2 separate regions of the Homo sapiens genome follow, and region 1 is linked to region 2. The links come from fine-mapping of genetic effects on gene expression. A gene starts in region 2. The other region holds a variant in brackets. All regions are shown on one strand. Distances are between the middles of the regions. Region 1 holds the start of ZNF160 (zinc finger protein 160). Region 2 holds the start of ZNF415 (zinc finger protein 415).

What was found.
Region 1: its variant is fine-mapped to the expression of ZNF415 in visceral fat (GTEx, PIP above 0.99). The same link has a PIP of 0.9 or more in pancreas and subcutaneous fat.

What each region holds. Positions count from the first base shown.
Region 1 is chr19:53,096,471-53,106,231 of GRCh38, forward strand. It overlaps ZNF160 (zinc finger protein 160), which reads right to left and starts at 6,952. Exons shown (of 6, transcript NM_001322131.2): 1 at 6,795-6,952. RefSeq lists a silencer at 6,995-7,404. The variant T/C (reference allele first, on the strand shown) is at 5,002.
Region 2 is chr19:53,127,874-53,137,634 of GRCh38, forward strand. It overlaps ZNF415 (zinc finger protein 415), which reads right to left and starts at 5,037. Exons shown (of 4, transcript NM_018355.4): 1 at 4,983-5,037. It overlaps ZNF347 (zinc finger protein 347), which reads right to left. Exons shown (of 5, transcript NM_032584.3): 5 at 7,062-9,761.

The sequences.
Region 1 (9,761 bases), 31 kb before region 2:
CTGTCTGAGGCTCAGCAGACCCACGTGGCCAATAAAAGACCCTAAATTCTGCAAAAAGAAGAGTTTGTCTCTGTGCCCAGGCCCCTCCATGGAAAAAAGGTCCTGGGGTCTAAGATTTCTCACTTGGCAATGATGTTGGCTTGAATATTATTCACAGACCCAGATCCTTGGGTCTTGCGTGGGGCAAACTGACTGCAGAACTGCAGGAAGTGAGAGTCTGAACAGAGCAGCAGAAAGGCAGGCAGGAGACCTGAGGGAGGGGAGAAAGGAGAGAGACAAACAGACCAACCCGTCCTCTCCCTCAATCACCCGCCTGGGGAAGCATTAGTTTCCCATCATAGAGAGGACAACGGGGAAAGGGAGAAGCGTGTGCATAGGATGAGATGTGTGTTGGGTGGACAGAAAGACTCCTTTCCCTAAATGTGACCCCATTAGCTCACCCCATTCTATTGCACAAATTCCTGAGCGGAGGGGCACCCTGTGGGGATGAACACAGCTCTTCCTGCCTCCAGTTCCTGCGTCTCCCTGCCATGACCAGGGCTGTAACCCTCCAACTCCCTTCCCAGGGCCCCGTGGCCCCTCTGCACTGGAGAAAGGTCCATGTTCCACAGCGGGTTTCAAGGACCTTGCCCCTCAGCTCCCCAGCTGCCTTGTGACTCTGTGACTCTGTTATCTTGGAATAAACAGGGAGAGGCCACCGGCCTGGCTGCAAGAATGTGGCAGCTTTATCTTCCCAAGGACAGTCCCAGTGGAAGCCTTTGGGCCGCAGGTCAGTGTGCTGTGTTTCACTCTGATTCTTGGAGAAATCTTTCCCTTACTCTGGGACCCTGATAATCACTCCCTCTTGAGTTGCACCCACAGACGCCCCCACAACAAACCCTCCCTAATGAAAGCCATCTGCGCCTGATTCTTAGGATCCCCGTTGCCCTCTGGACTCAGACACGCTTACAAACTCCCACACTCCCCATATACTTCATAAAGATCCCACAATCCCCAGATACTTCATAAAGATCCAGAAGCCCTGTTATGAAATCTCACAAGCCCCAGTAACTCATGGAATAATATACACAAACACCCCAGGAACTCACTGACCCAGGGCAACGTATTTCCACTCATAGTGACTCCACCCCACAGGGGAATACCACTGAAACCTACCAATAAAACAGAGATGTCTCTAATGATGCAATTAGACCCCAACATCAGGAAAGGAAACACTCCAAATGATCATTTCATCTTCCAAAACACAACTGAAAGCTTATTGATCTGCAACTGAAAATACCCCGAATGCCAAAGGCAACCCAGAAAATAATCTCTGAGATTCTTCCTATCTTTCCTCTATGGGTTTCAGGATGGTTTTTGCACTTCCCAAAGCCTCCACAGAAATCACCCCGTGGAGCGGATGCTGTGGAGCAGCTCTGGGATCCACACCCTCAGGCCAAGGCGCCCATCCTCCTGCTGCTGAAGCTCCCTCTGGGCTCAGCTTAGGTCTTGGTTCTAAGTACACTTCGGGATGTTTTTCTCTGCCTGATTCCACTGCCTTCAGTCCTCTTCACTGTGATGATGAGTTTCCGAATTAAATTCCTGCATGCAAATCTCTGTGTCAGCATCTGTTTCCCAGGTAACCTGAGCTGAGACATCAGGGCATTACAAAATGATCCTGCAGCCCCACAACCACCCCAAAACCCACTTCCAGGTGCTACAGCCAGACCTGAGACTTCTTTCCAAGTGTGCCACACATCCCGTGAGCCCACAGTCACCTGTGGGCCAGGTGCATGCAGCATTCATCCAGCTCCTCTAGAGGCTCAGCATTGCTTCCACGCCTCACTCCACACCTCTAAGGACTTCTTCACCTGTCCCCATTTTTCTACTTCTCTTCCAGCCTGAGAAGCACACTGGATTGAAAGGCCTCTGGACACAAGCGATGCGGCAGGAATGGACACAAACTGCTATCTGCAGGACAGTGGGCCTCAAGTCTAGATTCTAGAAGTTGGCCATGCTGGAAGGAATTGCCCCCAATTTGGGGACACCATGGAATCCAGTTTAAAGGCAGGTGAAGATTGGCCGGATTGAGCTGGCGGAGGATGTCCAAGAAAAAGAGAGGCCCCAGATCTCATGAGGGAGGCTGCCATTGTCCCCTTGTCTCTCCACTCACAGTCCCCTGCAAAATTCCCCCGCTGTTTAGGGAGTGCCTCCTTCATGGCCCACTTAGCTTCTGAACTTCTCGCCACCCTTCCTGAAGGGAATCCAGGACCCCTGACTGCGAGCGCATCACCTGCTGGAAGGCAAAGCCCCTGCCCAGGATGGCCACCGGGCCCCGGTGATGTGTAGAGCGCGGAAGACCCGGGAGCTGGAGTAAGGCGGTGGGGACGCCTCGGCACTGGCTGAGGACACAGGGTCTGCGGGGCTTTTCAGGCCTCAGTGAGGCCTTCTGCTCTTACATAGACTGGAATAAATAGCCACAGGAAGTTTAGACCAATTACGGATGAAATTTCCAGAATATGAGACCATCCTCACTACCCGCCCTATCCTTTTGGTCTTCCCTGAGGACTCCTCAGCCCGACCCCAGCCCCAGCATCTGAACCACAACCCCAGAGCAGGTGCTGCAGTCGTCCCGTGGCCAAGATGGAGACACAAAACACTCAAAATAATCCATGCAGAAGAGTGTCCGATGTGGTGATGGATGCGGAGACAGTGAAACCTGAGTAACGTGGTAGAGACTGACAGGCAGAGAGAATTTCAGATGGGGGTGCAAGAGGGTGGAAGACAGCTCTGAGGCTAGACCCGAAGGAGAAGAAAGGGACAGAGCTGTGATGATTTGGGGACATAGGGTAAGAGGAGGGACAAAGACTGAGACAGGAAAGGTTTTGATGTTTGGGAAAAGAGAAAAACAAATGTGACTAGGGCAGAGGGAGTCATGAGATGAGGGCAAGCTCCCAGGAGGAGGCTGGACACTGGCAGGGGCCCTGGACGCAGGGCTGTGGAGCCACAGTGAGGAGTTGGGCTTTTGTCCTGGGGAACACGGGAAGCCGGTGGAGGGTTCCCTACCAGGGACTGACATGACTGCTTTAGATTTAGCCATAACTCTAATGCAGAGAAAGGCCTCCAAAGATGGTCTCTCTGCCTCTGAGTCTACACCCCAGCTTCCATCCTTGTGGTTTTGGTTTTGTTTTGTTTTAAATTTTAAAGGACTGAGTCCCATTTAAATTTTTAATTGCAGTGGGCACTCCCCAATTCCTAGAAGAACTGCAAAACACAGATGTACACCCAATTCTGCCAAACATTAAGGGGATTAGTATTGCCCAGACTGAGGTATATTGACTGAGTCCCTCACCTTCACGTTGCAGGTGGATTTACTGAGGGCTAGACGGGGAGATGTTTCACTAAGTCATCCAAGTTGAATTAGAAGATGTATCTGACTCTATGACGGCCTCGAAGGGCTAATGGGCAACACTAGACTTTCTCACGCCTCCCCTGGAAAATTCCAGGATCTTCTTTCACATACCTGGGCAAAAGAAACTTCCCTTTCATGGCTTTATCACATTGATCCCAAACATTTAATTCCTCTTTTCCAGAAAAACACAACATACTAATGAAACGCAGAACTGTGAAAACATGGCTATTGGTGTTGAAAACAGTGAAAGACTGTCAGCTATAGAGATGAGCTCTCTCAGCAAATTTTTTCATGAACACATAAGCTCTGCTGGAATAAGGTTTTGAGTCAATCCAGCCCATCTTTCCACATTTACAGAAAATAGAACTGACAAAAGGGACTTGAGGGGGACATCTGCTTAGTAGTTCACAGGTCACTATTTTAAGAGATGACATAAGGGAAGAAAACTGACTAGTAACAAATAAGTTGGCCGAGCGTGGTGGCTCACGCCTGTAATCCCAGCACTTTGGGAGGCTGAGGCGGGTGGATCACGAGGTCAGGAGATCGAGACCATCCTGGCTACCATGGTGAAACCCCATCTCTACTAAAAATACAAAAAATTTGCCGGGCGTGGTGGCGGCTGCCTGTAGTCCCAACTACTTGGGAGGCTGAGGCAGGAGAATGGCATGAACCTGGGAGGCGGAGCTTGCAGTGAGCCGAGATTGCACCACTGCACTCCAGCCTGGGCGACAGAGCGAGACTCCGTCTCCAAAAAAAAATTAGTTAATAGGTTCTTATGTTAACGTTAAAAAAAAAAGCGTCACTGATATCTTTACCAAATACACATTCATACCATCTAAAATTCCTACTGATGGCCGGCGTAGTGGCTCACGCCTGTAATCCCAGCACTTTGGGAGGGATCACTTGAGATCAGGAGTTTAAGACCAGCCTGGCCAATATAATGAAACCCTATCTCTACTAAAAATACGAAAATTAGCCAGGTGTGGTGGCAGGTGCCTGTAATCCCAGCTACTTGGGAGGCTGAGGCAGGAGAATCACTTGAACCTGGGAGGTGGAGGTGGCAGTGAGCCAAGGTCACACGAGTGCACTACAGCCTGGGCATCAGAGTACCTCCATCTCAAAAAAAATAAATAAGGGCCAGGAGCGGTGGCTCACGCCTGTAATCCCAGAAATTTGGGAGGCCGAGACAGGTGGATCACTTGAGGTCAGGAGGTCAAGACCAGCCTAGCCAACATGGTGAAATCCCGTCTCTACTAAAAATACAAAAAATTAGCCAGGCGTGGTGGCACACACCTGTAATCCCAGCTAGTTGGAAGGCTGAGGCAGGAGAATCACTTGAACCCAGGAGACAGAGGTTGCAGTGAGCTGAGATCACGCCACTGCCCTCCAGCCTGGGTGAAAGAGCGAGACTGTCTCAAAAATAAATAAATAAATAAATAAAAATGAATAAAGTTACCTACTGACTACCAAAGAGTATTTCCAATATATGATAAAGAGTAGAAAGCATGCAGACCTCAATCTGAACTCAACACAATTAACTTCAAATGGAAACCATTTTGAAAATATATATATTATTTAATATGTATATGATATATTAACTATATATGGAA[T/C]TCTACAAAGGGAAAAAATTGAAAATATATCACATTTAGAAAAGAATGACATGAGCCAATACAGGATTCCACAAAAGCTTACTTCAGCAATAATTACATATAGAAAAAGAGACTGAATTAGATAAGCTTCATCTCAACCTTCAGCATGAACTGTGAGATGAAAGGTAAATACAAGGCACCAGGCAGTGACACAGCCAGTCACTCCTTGCCTCTCTTCACTGCCCCCACCCTACCCCATCCTCGGAAACAGGAAGAGGGAGACCCATAACTGAATGAGGCAAGTCACTGCCCAATGGCTAAACAGCATGGGCAAATGAAAGCTAGCCTCTTATGCCATAATTGTAAAATGCACAAGCCTTTTACACAGAGCTTTGTAATTCTCATCCTTATATGTAGAATTTAAACAATTAGATTACAATTTAAATGTAACACATTATAAATAGAGAAATCAAATTGTCATATCCAATCTCAACTCACCTCTCACCTGGCCCCAGGGCGCCCCTCTTTCTTTATAACTATGTGTTCCTCTCCCCCATTTTGTGCCTCTCACTTTCACCTTGTCTCTCCAGCCTTTTTCCCCTTTTATCTTCCCCCTAGGATTCTGACGATGTTGTGCCTCTTTTTTCTTCTGCTGTTTCTCCCTTCTTTGTTTTTTCCCCTTATATCTGTTCTACTCCATTCTTCCAATTTGTTTCACCTCTTGTGGCGTTTTCTTTCCAATCTTTTCATCGTCCCAATCTCCATCTATTTCTGCCTCTTTCTTACCCCATCTCCGCGCCTCCTCTGCTCTCCCTGTTAAATCCCCTCTTCCCTGTTACACCCGCTTATCCCCACTCTCTGGCACTCCCAGATCCCAGGCCTCCCTGTGTTGTGGTGCTCCCTCTGCTCGCCTTGTCACCAGCTGTCCCCTCCAGCTGTCCCAGCACCACGCAGCTCTGTCTGCCCTCGGCCAAATCCTTTCTCCTCTCCCCCACTCTCTGTCTGAGGAGGCTCCTTCTTTGCTGTCCCTCTCCTTATCTTGTTGTCCTGCATCTCGGGACATCGAGCTTTTCTCTACATTTCGCCAATTGCTTTTCTGCCCCTGCTACTTTCTTGACTGCTTCTTTCACTCTGTCGCTGCAAATCTCTCACCCATCCTCCACTTTGCCATCTGTTTATGGGTCTCCCTCATTTTTCTTTTCTCTTTCTTGGTTTTTCCATCTCCTCTCAGTGGCTCTTTGTCTCTCTTTCTCCTGATTCCCTTGGGCCACACATTCACTGGAGGGTTTGTAGTAAGATGTCTGCATGTTGGAGGAGTACATTTTCCAGGGGGTGGAGCTGGGCAGGCAAAAACACCGGGTGTCACAGGACGGGCCCCGGGCACCTCCCCAACGAGGGCTCAAGGGAAGCGGTGACTGCGAAGGGGAGGCCTGGGGAGCAGCAGGGCCCGGCACGAGGAGGAGGGAGGTGGGGGGCGACGGCGCCTTAGGACAGGGGTGGGATGTGCAGGATCCCAGGACCAGGCGGAGGCGCGGCCTCCCCGGGACTGGGTCGGCGGCGCTGCGCTCCAGGGGCCGACGAGAGCGAGGCTGGGAGGCGCCCAGGGCAGGCGGTGAGGACTTTAAGCGATGCGGGGCGGGAGGAGGAGTCAGTAAAGGATTTTAAGCAGGAAAATCCTGCTTAAACGTTTAAAAAACCGGGAAAGGCCGTGTTTACTTGGCCCAAGGCAGAAAGACCGGGGGCAGGGACCAGCCTCAGGGCGACTTTAACCCAAAAGGAAGCGTCTCCGGGCCCACACAGCAAGGCCTATTTACCTGAGGTGGAGGGTGCGGTGCGGAGATTTTAAGTCCGTAGCGACCCCCGGGCATCGGGTGTGCGAATGGGGGACGGCGAGGCGCAGGTTGAGTCTACACAGAGGAACACTCATACGCCATGGTGTGATGCTTGCTCCGCACGATCCACTTCCGGGTCTGTGGGCAACTGCGCGAAGGAAAGCGACCGAGCGGCCCGGGGCGGGGTCCGAGATGGGCGGAACCGGAAAAGGGCGGGGCGTTGAGAGAGCCGGGCTGAAGCAGGGGCCGCCAGGCAGGGACCCCAGGGAAGGAACGGGGAGGAGCCACCGGGGAGGGGTGGGGAGTGACCAAGTGGAGGGACCCGGGGGCGGGCCGGGGAGGAGCCGCCGGGGAAGGGCGGGGAGGAACCGCGGGAAGGGACCGCGGGGGAGGAAGGCGAAGGGACCGCGGGGGAGGGAGGCAGAGGGACCGCCAGGAAGGGACCCGGGGGAGAGGCGGGGCTGGACGGGACACGTTAGGGTCTGCGATTTCGTGTGATGCCCACAGCCCAGCGCCCAGAGCCATCTGTAGTGTCTTGTGGAACGGCGTAGATGTTTCAAACGGTTTCAAGTTAAAAGCACAGTTGTGTAGGTTATTTTGGAAACCAAACTGCTTTCCTCTTAGAATGGAGGCGGTTTATGTTGAAAGCATTTTTTGCTAGCGCGTTTACCCAGTAATGTTATTGACGCTGAAGCAGCCCAGGAGTCTGGGAACATGGGTTGACACGGAGCGGTGATGGCATGCTGGAAAAGTTTCTGCGATTAAAATTAAGTAATTTAAAAGCCCTGAAATTAGCAGTAACTTTTAAAAAATAGATATAAATTGCATTGTCCTTTTTTATACTTACTATTCTATTCCGTGCGAGATGACAACCTCAAACGCCTATACTTTTTTTTTTTTTTTTTGAGCCGGAGTCACGCTCTGTCGTCCAGGCTGGGGTGCAGTGGCATGATCTCTGCTCACTGCAACCTCGGCCTCCCGGGTTCAAGCAATGCTCCTGCCTCAGCCTCCCGAGTAGCTAGGATTACAGGCGCCCGCCACCACGTTCTTTAGCGGAGATGAAGTTTCACCATGTTGCCTAGGCTGGTCTCGAATTCCTGACCTCAAGTGATCCACCCGCCTCAGCCTCCCAAAGTGCTGGGATTACAGGCGTGAGCCACCATACCTGGCCCCAGGAACTACTTTCACCTACTGAATATATATTAAGTCCTTTGCCACAAAAAGATAATATACATAATTTATCTCAGAACAATTAAGATATTTACCACTGTAAATGACAAATTCAGACTTAGAGAAGGAAGATTTTATTCAAAAGGACTATTGCAATAGAGAGAATGTTCCAATCACAAGATCTGAAAATGTCCAAGAGACACAAACTAAAAAGCTTTTTTTTCTTTTTTTCATATATGGAGGAGTAAACAAGGCTAGAAAGCACAAGCACAAGTTATGAGGCTGTGGATGAGCACTTGGCATGACTACAGTTATTCAGGGAAAGTTTGTTATGTTATGTTATGTTATGTTAAAAATGTTACATATTTCTTGGAGAGAGTCTTGCTCTGTCACCCAGGCTGGAGTGCAGTGGCGTCATCTCTGCTCACTGCAACTTTTCATCTACCAGGCTCAGGCAATCCTCCCACCTCAATCTCCCCAGTAGCTGGGACTACAAGCACACGTCACCATGCCTAGTTAATTTTTGTACTTTTTGTAGAGACGGGGTTTCGCCATGTTGCTCAGGCTAGACTCGAACTCCTGAGCTCGAGGGATCCCCCACACCTTGGCCTCCCAAAGTGCTGGGATCACAGGCGTGAGCCACCGTGCCCGGTCTATTTATTTTTTGAGAGAGCATCTTGCTCTGTTGCCCAGGCTAGAGTGCAGTGTCAAGACCATAGCTCACTGCAGCCTTCAACTCTGGAATCAAGTGATCCTCCTACCTCAGTCTCCCAAGTGGCTGGGACTACGGGTTTGCACCGCCACACTCCACTAATTTTTTTACTTTTTGCAAAGGCGGATTCTCACTATGTTGCCCAGGCAAGTCTTGAACTTCTAGCCTCAACTGATCCTCCCGCCCTGATCTCCCAAAGTGTTGGGATTACAAATGTGAGCCTGGCTCATCATGGAATTCAAGACCAGTTTGGGCAACATAGCAAGACTCCCATCTCTACAGAAAATTTTTAAAAATTAGCTGGGCATGGTGGCACACACCTGTAGTCCCAGCTACTCAGGAAGATTGCTTGAGCCCAGGAGTTCGAGGCAGCAGTTAGCTATGATCCTGACACTGCACTCCAGTCTGGGCAACAGAGTGAGAACCTGTCTTTCAAAAAAAAAAAAAAAAGCCTACTCTTGGGAGGGGCTGTTGGCTGTTGTTAAGGAAAAGTTGTTCCAAATTACACTGACAAAGAATGGTTCAGAGGGTTGGGCATGGTGGCTCACGCCTGCAATCCTTGCACTTTGGGAAGCTGAGGCGAGTGGATCACATGAGGTCAGGAGTTCGAGACCAGCCTGGTCAACATGGCGAAAACCCATCTCTACTAAAAACAAAAATTAGCCAGGCGTGGTGGTGCACACCTGTAATCCCAGCTACTCAGGAGGCTGAGGCAGGAGAATTGCTTAAACCAGGGAGGCAGAGGCTGCAGTGAGCCGAGATTGTGCCACTGCACTTCAGCTTGGGTGACAGAGCGAGACTCTGTCTCAAATAAATAAATAAGGCTGGGCGCGGTGGTTCACACCTGTAATCCCAGCACTTTGGGAGGTTGAGGCGGGTGGATCACGAGGTCAAGAGATCGAGACCATCCTGACCAACATGGTGAAACCCCGTTTCTACTAAAAACACAAAAATTAGCTGGGTGTGGTGGCCTGTCCCTGTAGTCCCAGCTACTCAGGAGGCTGAGGCAGAATTGCTTGAAACCAGGAGGCAGAGGTTGCAGTGAGATGAGATCGTACCACTGCACT
Region 2 (9,761 bases):
TCAAAAAAAAAAAAAAGAAAAAGAAAAAGAAAAAGATACTAGGGCTTTCCAAACTAATCCATGCAGTCCCATAACCACCCATAAACCCACGTCCATGTGCTACAGCCAGACCTGAGACATTCCTTTACAATTCTACTCACTCCTTGATCCCACAAGCATGCGTGGGACAGGTGTACACATCATTCACCCGGCTCATCTAGAGGCCCACCTTGCTTCCATGCCCCTATGTGACACCTCCAAGAATGCTTCTTCACTTTCCCTCATTTTTCTACTTCTCTTCCATGCATGAAGAGCACACTAGGCTGAAAGGCAAAAGGGCCTCTGGACAAAAGCAGGAATGGACACAAACTGCTATCTGCAGGACAGTGGGCCTCAAGTCTAGATTCTAGAAGTTGGCCATGCTGGAAGGAATTGCCCCCAATTTGGGGACACCATGGAATCCAGTTTAAAGGCAGGTGAAGATTGGCTGGACTGAGCTGACGGAGGATGTCCAAGAAAAAGAGAGGCCCCAGATCTCATGAGGGAGGCTGCCATTGTCCCCTTGTCTCTCCACTCACAGTCCCCTGCCAAATTCCCCCGCTGTTTAGGGAGTGCCTCCTTCATGGCCCGTTTAGCTTCTGAACTTCTCGCCACCCTTCCTGAAGGGAATCCAGGACCCCTGACTGTGAGCGCATCACCTGCTGGAAGGCAAAGCCCCTGCCCAGGATGGCCACTGGGCCCCGCTGATGTGTAGAGCGTGGAAGACCCGGGAGCTGGAGTAAGGCGGTGGGGACGCCTCGGCACTGGCTGAGGACACAGGGTCTGCGGGGCTTTTCAGGCCTCAGTGAGGCCTTCTGCTCTTACATAGACTGGAATAAATAGCCACAGGAAGTTTAGACCAATTACAGATGAAATTTCCAGAATATGAGACCATCCTCACTACCCGCCCTGTCCTTTTGGTCTTCCCTGAGGAGTCTTCAGCCCAACCCCAGCCCCAGCATCTGAACCACAACCCCGGAGCAGGTGCTGCAGTCATCCCGTGGCCCAGATGGAGACTGTGTCCTCCAATGGAGGGAGACACAAAACACTCAAAATAATCCACGCAGAAGAGTGTCCGATGTGGTGATGGATGCGGAGACAGTGAAACCTGAATAATGTGATAGAGAGTGACGGGCAGAGAGAATTTCAGATGGGGGTGGGAGGGCACGGGAGACATCTCTCAGTCTAGACCCGAAGGAGGAAAAAGGGACAGGGTCACGATCATTTAGGGACATAGGGTAAAAGCAGGGACAACGACCCGTGACAGGAAGGGTTTTGACATTTGGGAAAAGAGAAAAGCAAATGTGACTGGTGCAGAGGGAGTCATGAGATGAGGGCAAGCTCCCAGGAGGAGGCTGGACACTGGCAGGGGCCCTGGACACAGGGCTGTGGAGCCACAGTGAGGAGTTGGGCTTTTGTCCTGGGGAACACAGGAAGCTGGTGGAGGGTTCCCTGCCAGGGACTGACGTGACCTGCTTTAGATTTCTCTGTGATGTCCTCATACAGAGAAAGGCCCCGAAGATGGTCTCTGTGTCTGAGTCCCTGCTTCACATTCTTGTTTTCATTTTTAGAGGAAGAAATCCAAATAAAAATTTTAATTGCAACTGGCTAGTCCCCCCACATACAACTGCCAAACACAAATGCACACCCAATTTTGCCCCAAATTTCAGGAGTCAGTGTTGCTCACATTGAGGTTTTCTGGTCTAGTCCCTTATCTCTGTTACAGGTGGGCTCACTGAGGCTGAGAGAGGGAGTCATTTCACCAAGTTATCCTGAGAGGTCTGAGTTGAGTGAGAAGGAGGAGATGTGGCTGAATTATGATGTCACGACCTGGAAGGGCCAATGGGCTGTGTTTGCCTTTATCACATCTCCCTTAGAAAATTCCAGGACTGGCCAGGCATGTTGGCTCGTGCCTGTAATCCCAGCACTTCGAGGCTGAAGGAGGGGAGATTACTTGAGGCCAGGAGTTTGAGACCAGCCTGGCCAACATGATGAAAGCTCATCTCTATCAAAAAACACAAAAGTTAGCCGGGTGTGGTGGCCTGTGCCTGTAATCCCAGCTACTCAGGAGGCTGAGGCAGGAGAATCGCTTGAACCCGGGAGGCGGAGGTTGCAGTGAGCCGAGATTGCACCACTGTACTCCAGCCTGGGTGAGAGAGCAAGACTCCAGCTCACAAAAAAAAAAAAAAAGAAAAGAAAAAAAGAAAATTCCCAGACCCTCTTTCACATATCTGAGCAAAAGAAACTTCTTCAAGGTTTTATCACATTGGTTCCAAATGCAGCTCACAGCTTACTATTTTAACAAATTACACAAAAGAAGAAAATTGAATAATAGACTAGTTAAACTAGGTTTCCATGTTAAGGTAAAAACATCATTGACATCTTTATCAGGTACACATTGAAACAATCTAAAATTACCTACTAGTCAACAAATAATGCTTCTATTATATAATAAAGAGCAGAAAGCATGCAGACCTCTATCAAAACTGGACACAATTAATTTCAAAGGGAAAGATTTTGAAATTGTTAAGAAATATCTGATGAATTTTGGAGCTAAAAAAATTGAAAACACATTATATTTAGAAAATGCCATGAGCTGATTATAGGATGCCACCAAAGTTACTTTGGAAATAATTATATACAGAAAAATAGAAACTGAATTAATGAAGATCTATCTCAAGTTGCAAAATGAACTATACATGAGATGAAAGGGAATTAGTAAGAAAAAAAGCAAATCAATTACAAAAAGCAACAACACTTTTTTTGTTTGTTCTTTGTTTTTTTTTCAGACGCAGTCTTGCTCTGTCACCGGATCTCGGCTCTTGGCTCACTGCAACCTCCGCCTCCCGGGTTTACACAATGCTTTGCCTCAGCCTCCTGAGTAGCTGGGATTACAGATGCGTGTCACCATACCTGGCTAAGTTTTGTATTTTTAGTAGAGATGGGGTTTCACCATCTTTGCCAGGCTGGTCTTGAACTACTGACCTTGTGATTCACCCACCTCGGCCTCCCAAAGTGCTGGGATTACAGGCATGAGCCACCATGCCCAGCCTCAACACTTTTAATGTTCCTTTTGAGCAACGTTGTCCAATCCGCAGCCCAGGAAGGCTTTGAATGCAGCCCAACACAAATTCCTAAACTTCCTTAAAACATTTTGAGATTTTCTTGCAACTTTTTTTTTTTTTTTTTTTTTTTTTTTTAGCTCATCAGCTATTGTTAGTGTTAGTGTACTTTATGTGTGGCCCAAGACAATTCTTCTTCCAATGTGGCCCAGGGAAGCCAAAAGATTGGACACCCCTGCTTTAGAGAGACACTATGTAGTGACAGTCTTTCACTTTCTGCCCAGCTTTACTCTCCCACTCCCCCTTCCCCTCCCCCTGCCCCAACGCCAGGGAAGGGGAAGAGGATGACCTGTGGAATTAATGAGTCAAGTCACTTCCCTCTGCCTTAACAGGGATTGCAAGTGGAAGCTAACTTCTGATGCCATAATTATAAAATGCACCAGCCTTAATAGACAGGAGCTTTGCAATTCTCATCATCTGTGCATTTTAAACTTATAAAGACAGAAATCAACAGGTCAAAAGGTAGTCATCACATCCAGTCAGTTCACAACTCACCTGGACCTGGGGTCCCCCTCTTTCCTCATTATGGTGTGTTTCCCTCCCTCGTTCCGTACATCGCTCTCATTCTCACCTTCTTTCTCTAGCTCTTTCCTTCCCCTTTATTTTCTCCCTAGGATTCTGCTCATTTTGAGCCCCTCTCCTCTCCTGCTGCTCCTCCCCGTCTTCCCTCTATTCTTTCTCTTCCACTTGCTCTTTCCATTCTTGCAATGTATTTAATTCCTCTTTCTTCCTAATCTTTTCATTGTCCCAGTCTCCACATATTTCTGGCTCTTTCTTCCCCATTTCAGCACTCCCTGTTAAATTCCCTCTTCCCTGTTACACACCGTTGTCCCCACTCTTTGGCACCCCCAGATCCCAGGCCTCCCCGTGCTGTGGTTCTCCCTCTGCTTCTCCTTGTCATCGGCTGCCCCCTCTTGCTGTCCCGGTACCACACTGCCCTGTCTGCCCTGGCTCCAAATCCCTTCTGCTCTCCCCCACTCTCTGTCTGAGGAGCCTCCTCCTTTGCTGCCCCTCTCCCTACCTGGCTGTCCTTCATCTCTCTGGATACTGTGCTTTTTCTCGAAATGTGTCTAGTTACTTTTCTCTCCCTGCTACTTTCTCGGCTTCTTCTTCCACTCTTACTGTCTCTGAAAATCTCTAACCATCCTCTACTTTGCCATCTGTTTATTGGTTTGCCTCATTCCTTCCTGTCTCAGGTTTTCTACTGCTCTCTCTGTCCCTCGATCCCTTTGGCCCACACATTCACAGGACGGTTTGGGGTAAGACGCCTGCATCCTGGAGGAGCGCATTTTCCACGGGGTGGAGGAGGGCAGGCAAGAACATCGGGTGTCACAGGACAGGCCCTGAGCACCTCCCCAGCGCGGGCTCAGGGGAGGCCTGGGGAGCAGCGGGGCCCGGCACGAGGAGGAGGGAGGTGGGGCGCGACAGCGCCTTCAGACAGGGGTGGGGTCTGCAGGATCCCAGGACCAGGCAGAGGACGCAAGGCTCCCCGGGACTGCGGCTGCAGCTGCGGCGCTGCGCTCCAGGGGCCGACGAGGGCAAGGCTGGGAGGCACCCAGGACGGGAATACACCTCTTGGGTGAAGACTTTAAAAAGCCCGGGGATGGGGGAGGGGGTCAGGAAAAGGTTTTAAGCGGGAGGAAGAAGCAAAAGGCCGGGGACGGGGAGCAGCCTCAAAGCGACTTCAACCCAAAGGGAAGCGACTCCGGACCCACACTGCGAGGCCTGTATTCACCTGGGGTGGAGTGTACGGGGATTTTAAGGGCCGTATCGACCCTGGACATCGGCTGTGGAAATGGGAAACAGGGAGCGCAGGTTTAATCTACACAGAGGGTCACTCACGCTCGACGCCGTCACCTTCACCCAACGCGATCCGTTTCCGGGCCTGTAGGAAACTGCGCATGCGCGGAGAGAAGAGCCCGGGCAGCCTGAAGGAATGGCTGGAGTGGGCGGGGTCTGCGCCGCTTTAAGGTAAAAAAATCAGAGTTGTGTGGGCCACTTATGGTGGAAACCAAAATGTTTTCCACTTACCAAGTTGAAAACGGTTTATGTTAAAACTATTTTGCCTGCAGGTTGGACCCGATCCTGCTAGGGAGTCTCCTGCAGCTTAGCAGTCCGGGAACTGGGATTTCGGTGGGGAATCCAAAACTAGCAGTGATTGGATCCATAAAAGTTACCAAAAAACAAAAATGAAGTGTCTGGAATCACTCCACTGGATTTCAAGACTACCAATATAGGAAAGGTAATAAAAACTGTGTGGTTTTGGGGCAATAAAAGACATATGGATTGATGCAATACAGTAAGAGAGTACAAAAATAGCCTCTACAGGTACTTCCAACTGATTTTTGACAAAGTTACCAAGGGAATTGAATGAAGAATTTTTAAAAACTGGTGAGGGGCTAACTTAATATCCACAGCAGGAAAGAAGTCATCTCTACTCAAACTTCACAACCGTACAGACATTAGTTCAACATTGACCATAGCCTAAATGTAAAATATCAAACCATAAAATGGTATCCTGTAGGAGACTGAAAGAAAAAATTACTCACAATAAAATCGTAAGAATCAAGAGCTTGTTCAAAAATTCTTAGCCATAGCAGCAAAAGCATGATTCATTAAAGAAAAAAAAAATCAACTGGTATTTACCAAATTAAAAACTTTTGGTCTGTGAAAGACCTTCAGACGATGAAAGAAAAGGTATTTGATATGGTTTGGCTCAGTGTCCCCATCAAATCTCATTTTCAAGTATAAACCTCAGGTGTTGAGGGAGGGACCTGGTGGGAGGTGACTGGATCATGGGGGTGGTTTTCCCCAAGCCGTTCTCATGATAGTGAGCTCTCAGGAGATCTCATGGTTTAAAAATCTGTGATAGTTCCTCCTTTGATCGCTCTCTCTCCTGCTGCAAGCAAGACGTGCCTTGCTTCGCCTTTGCCTTCCTCTATGATTGTAAGTTTCCTGAGGGCTCCCTAGCCATGCGGAACTGTGAGTCAATTAAACCTCTTTTGTTTATAAATTACCCAGTCTCAGGTTGTCACAGGAGGGTTTAGGCAGTGTGAAAATGGACTAATACAGTACTGAATAATAGAAAATATTTGCCTACCATATATCTGACATAAAACTGGTATGTGGAATGTATAAAGAATCCTAGAACGACTTAAAAAAAAAGCAAAATAATCAAATTAGAAAATGGATAGAACTATGAAGAGACATTTCACTGAAGCAGATATACTGAGATAAATGGGCACATAAAAAGATTTCCAACATCACCATCCATCAAATCTCAGACCTCAGCATATTCTGCTTTCTCCATGTGAACCCCTGGATGCTGTCAGAGATCATGAGAAACACAGGAGCTTCTACTGAACAGTCCAGTTGATGTGTATTAGCAACCTGTAATTGTTTTTGGAAACGAACAATGGAAACACAGATACAAAAATATTCTCAGCTCAAGAAATATGCACTTTGTCATTATTAGTGATTTTTTTTTTTTTTTGAGACAGAGTCTTGTTCTGTCACCCAGGCTGGAGTGCGGTGGTGTGATCTCAGCTTACTGTAACCTCTACCTCCCAGGCTCAAGCGATTCTCCTGCCTCAGCCTCTTGAGTAGCTTCAACCACACGCACGCGCCACCACACCCAGCTATTTTTTGTATTTTTAGTAGAGATGGGTTTTCACCATGTTGGCCAGGCTGGTCTCCAATTCCTGACCTCAGGAGATCCACCCCCCTTGGCCTCCCAAAGTGCTGGGATTACAGGGGTGAGCTACAGCGCCTGGCCACCACTAGAACTAACACCTCAGGTACTGGATGCCTCCTTCGAAAGATTGGATAATCGTTCTTACAGGATTATGTGGTAATGAGTGTCTCTGTCATTCATTTAGGTAAGATGCATACGCAATAGTGATCTATAAAATATAGACTTAATTGATCTATAAAAATATAGATTTAATACAAAGTTACCACAATCACAATGATATATGAAGATAAACCATTTAAAAATTACAAGAGATACTAACAAAATAGGTATAGATGGTGAGTAAAGGACAAAAATAACTAGCATTGTTACTGTAGCATCATCATTAAAAGCTTTGTCTTTGCAACCAGACAACATGGATTCAAATCTCGATTCTGCCTCTTACTGAAATGTGACAAGATGAGTCTTTTAAAGCAGAATATGCTGAGATCTGAGATTTGATGGATGGTGATGTTGGAAATCTTTTTATGTGCCTATTTATCTCAGTATAACTGCTTCAGTGAAATGTCTCTTCATAGTTCTACCCATTTTCTAAATATATATATATATATATATATATATATATATATATATATAGAGAGAGAGAGAGAGAGAGAGAGAGAGAAAGAGAGAGAGAGAGAGAGAGAGAGATGGAGTCCCGCTCTGTCACTGAGACTGGAGTGCAATGGTGGGAACTCGGCTAACTGCAACATCCGCCTCCCAGGCTCAAGCAATTCTCCTGCCTCAGCCTCCCGAATAGCTGGGATTACAGGCGCCCGCCATCACACCCAGCTAATTTTTGTATTTTTAGTAGAGACGGGGTTTCACCATGTTGATCAGGCTGGTCTCGAATTCCTGACCTCAGGTGATCCCCCCGCCTCGGCCTCCCAAAGTGCTGGGATTACAGGCATGAGCCACTGTGCCCAGCCTAATTTGATTATTTTGCTTATCTGTCCTAAGTTTCCTCACCTCTGAAATGAGAATATCATTAATACTTATTTCAGGAGCTGATGATTCAGTTGTTACACATAAAGCATTAATAACTGTGATTCTTACTCTAAATGTGATTGATATAAAATATATATGCAAAGATAAATCACTTATTAAAGAATATATATCAGTTTTTTAAAATGGAAACAAATCTAAGGGGAGTATATTAAATGGCAGCTGTCATTGCAAAAGTTGCACAAATATCATGTTTTGCTGTAAGATCCTCTGGCTCAGAAAAGAAATACCAGCCACAGTAGGAAGTTGAATTGCCTCCAGGGATTCAATGAGAGAAATTATCTCCTTTGCATAAATGATAATTAATATCTTGGGGACTCTCTTATTAACTGTATTTTCATTTACTTCTCCAGATGCTGGTTAACCTCCACACGCTTGATTTTCAAGCATCTGATCTTTGATAACTTCCATATTAAGAGACTTCATTTCACCATCTAGTATCCCTGTACTTTAATTGAACTAAAGATTTACAAGGACACTCCATTTTCCTATTTACAGAGAACCTAGTCTGTACCTGCCATTGTTTTACATACATTTTCATGTCACAAAATTTTATTTCTAAACAACACCCTCATTTATGTATTTTCTAAGTGTTCACTGGAGTAACACAGAGAAGAAATGCAGTAAACATATAATTTGGATTAAAATGTATGGAAGGAAAAAATCCTTAAAGTAAAAATCATATACAAAAACAAAAAGTCATTTTACTACTATTGGCTCATGGCTGTAATCCTAGCACTTTGGGAAGCTGAGGCAGGAGGAATGCTTGAGGCCAAGAGTTCAAGACCAACCTGGCCAACATAGCGAGACCCCACGTCTAAAAAGAAAAAGAAAAAAAAAAAGAAAAGAAGCTATGGAGAATATGTTACACAATACCATAAACTGAACAAGACATGAATATAACACAGCCTTTGGAAAAATGCCCTTTGGCTAAAATTGCTTGATCATATTATGTAATAAACTTTTCCACAAATTCATTTGCATTGAACTACTGTAAAAATATTTTAGGCAATTTAAACAGCATTTCACAAATATTTTCAAGAATGACGTTGTGTAATGGGCCCTATGGGTTCAGCAGAAAGGAAGAGTATTATCTACTATTATGAAGAAAGCGGAGGTCTTCCCTAACAAAGAAGTTAGAAATTTCTTTTGTTTTTTTGAGAGTCTCACTCTATTGCCCAGGCTGGAGTGCAGTGGTGAGATCTCAGCTCACTGCAACCTCCGTCTCCCGGGTTCAAGTGATTCTCCTGCCTCAGCCTCCCTGGTAGCTAGGACTACAGGAGTGCGCCACCACACCTGGCTAATTTTTGTATTTTTAGTAGAGATGGGGTTTCACCATGTTGGCCAGGCTCGTCTTGAGCTCCTGACCTAAGGTGATCCACCTGCCTCGGGCTCCCAAAGTGCTGGGATTACAGGCATGAGCCTGTAATTTCTGGCCATGCCTGGCCAGAAATCAGAAGTTGCAAGAGTAAATATTCAGTGTTGTACTACAGTCAGTTTCCATTTTGTGATTTTTGTCTTATACCACCATTTATACCTCTGCACTCCCTCTTCTTATTCTGCCCATCTGGCCAAGCTGATAATGTCCGTGTTCCCTCCTTTGGCACTAGATGGAAGTTCAAATCACGTGTGGGATCCTCACCCCAACCCACCCTTTTATTAAAGGTTATTACCATAACACCCCAAGCAAGTTATTTATCCCTGCTCTCTCAAGCCATTTTGGACCAGTTTGGGAAGTCAATCCTGCTTCTCACAGAAAGCCTCATTATGCAATACACATTTCCCTAAAACTTCATTGTTCAGCATCCTCATTTTCCATATCTAAACCAAACTGTAAATGGAGTTCAATACACTTCCTGTGGAGAGGTGACAAATTAACATTACCA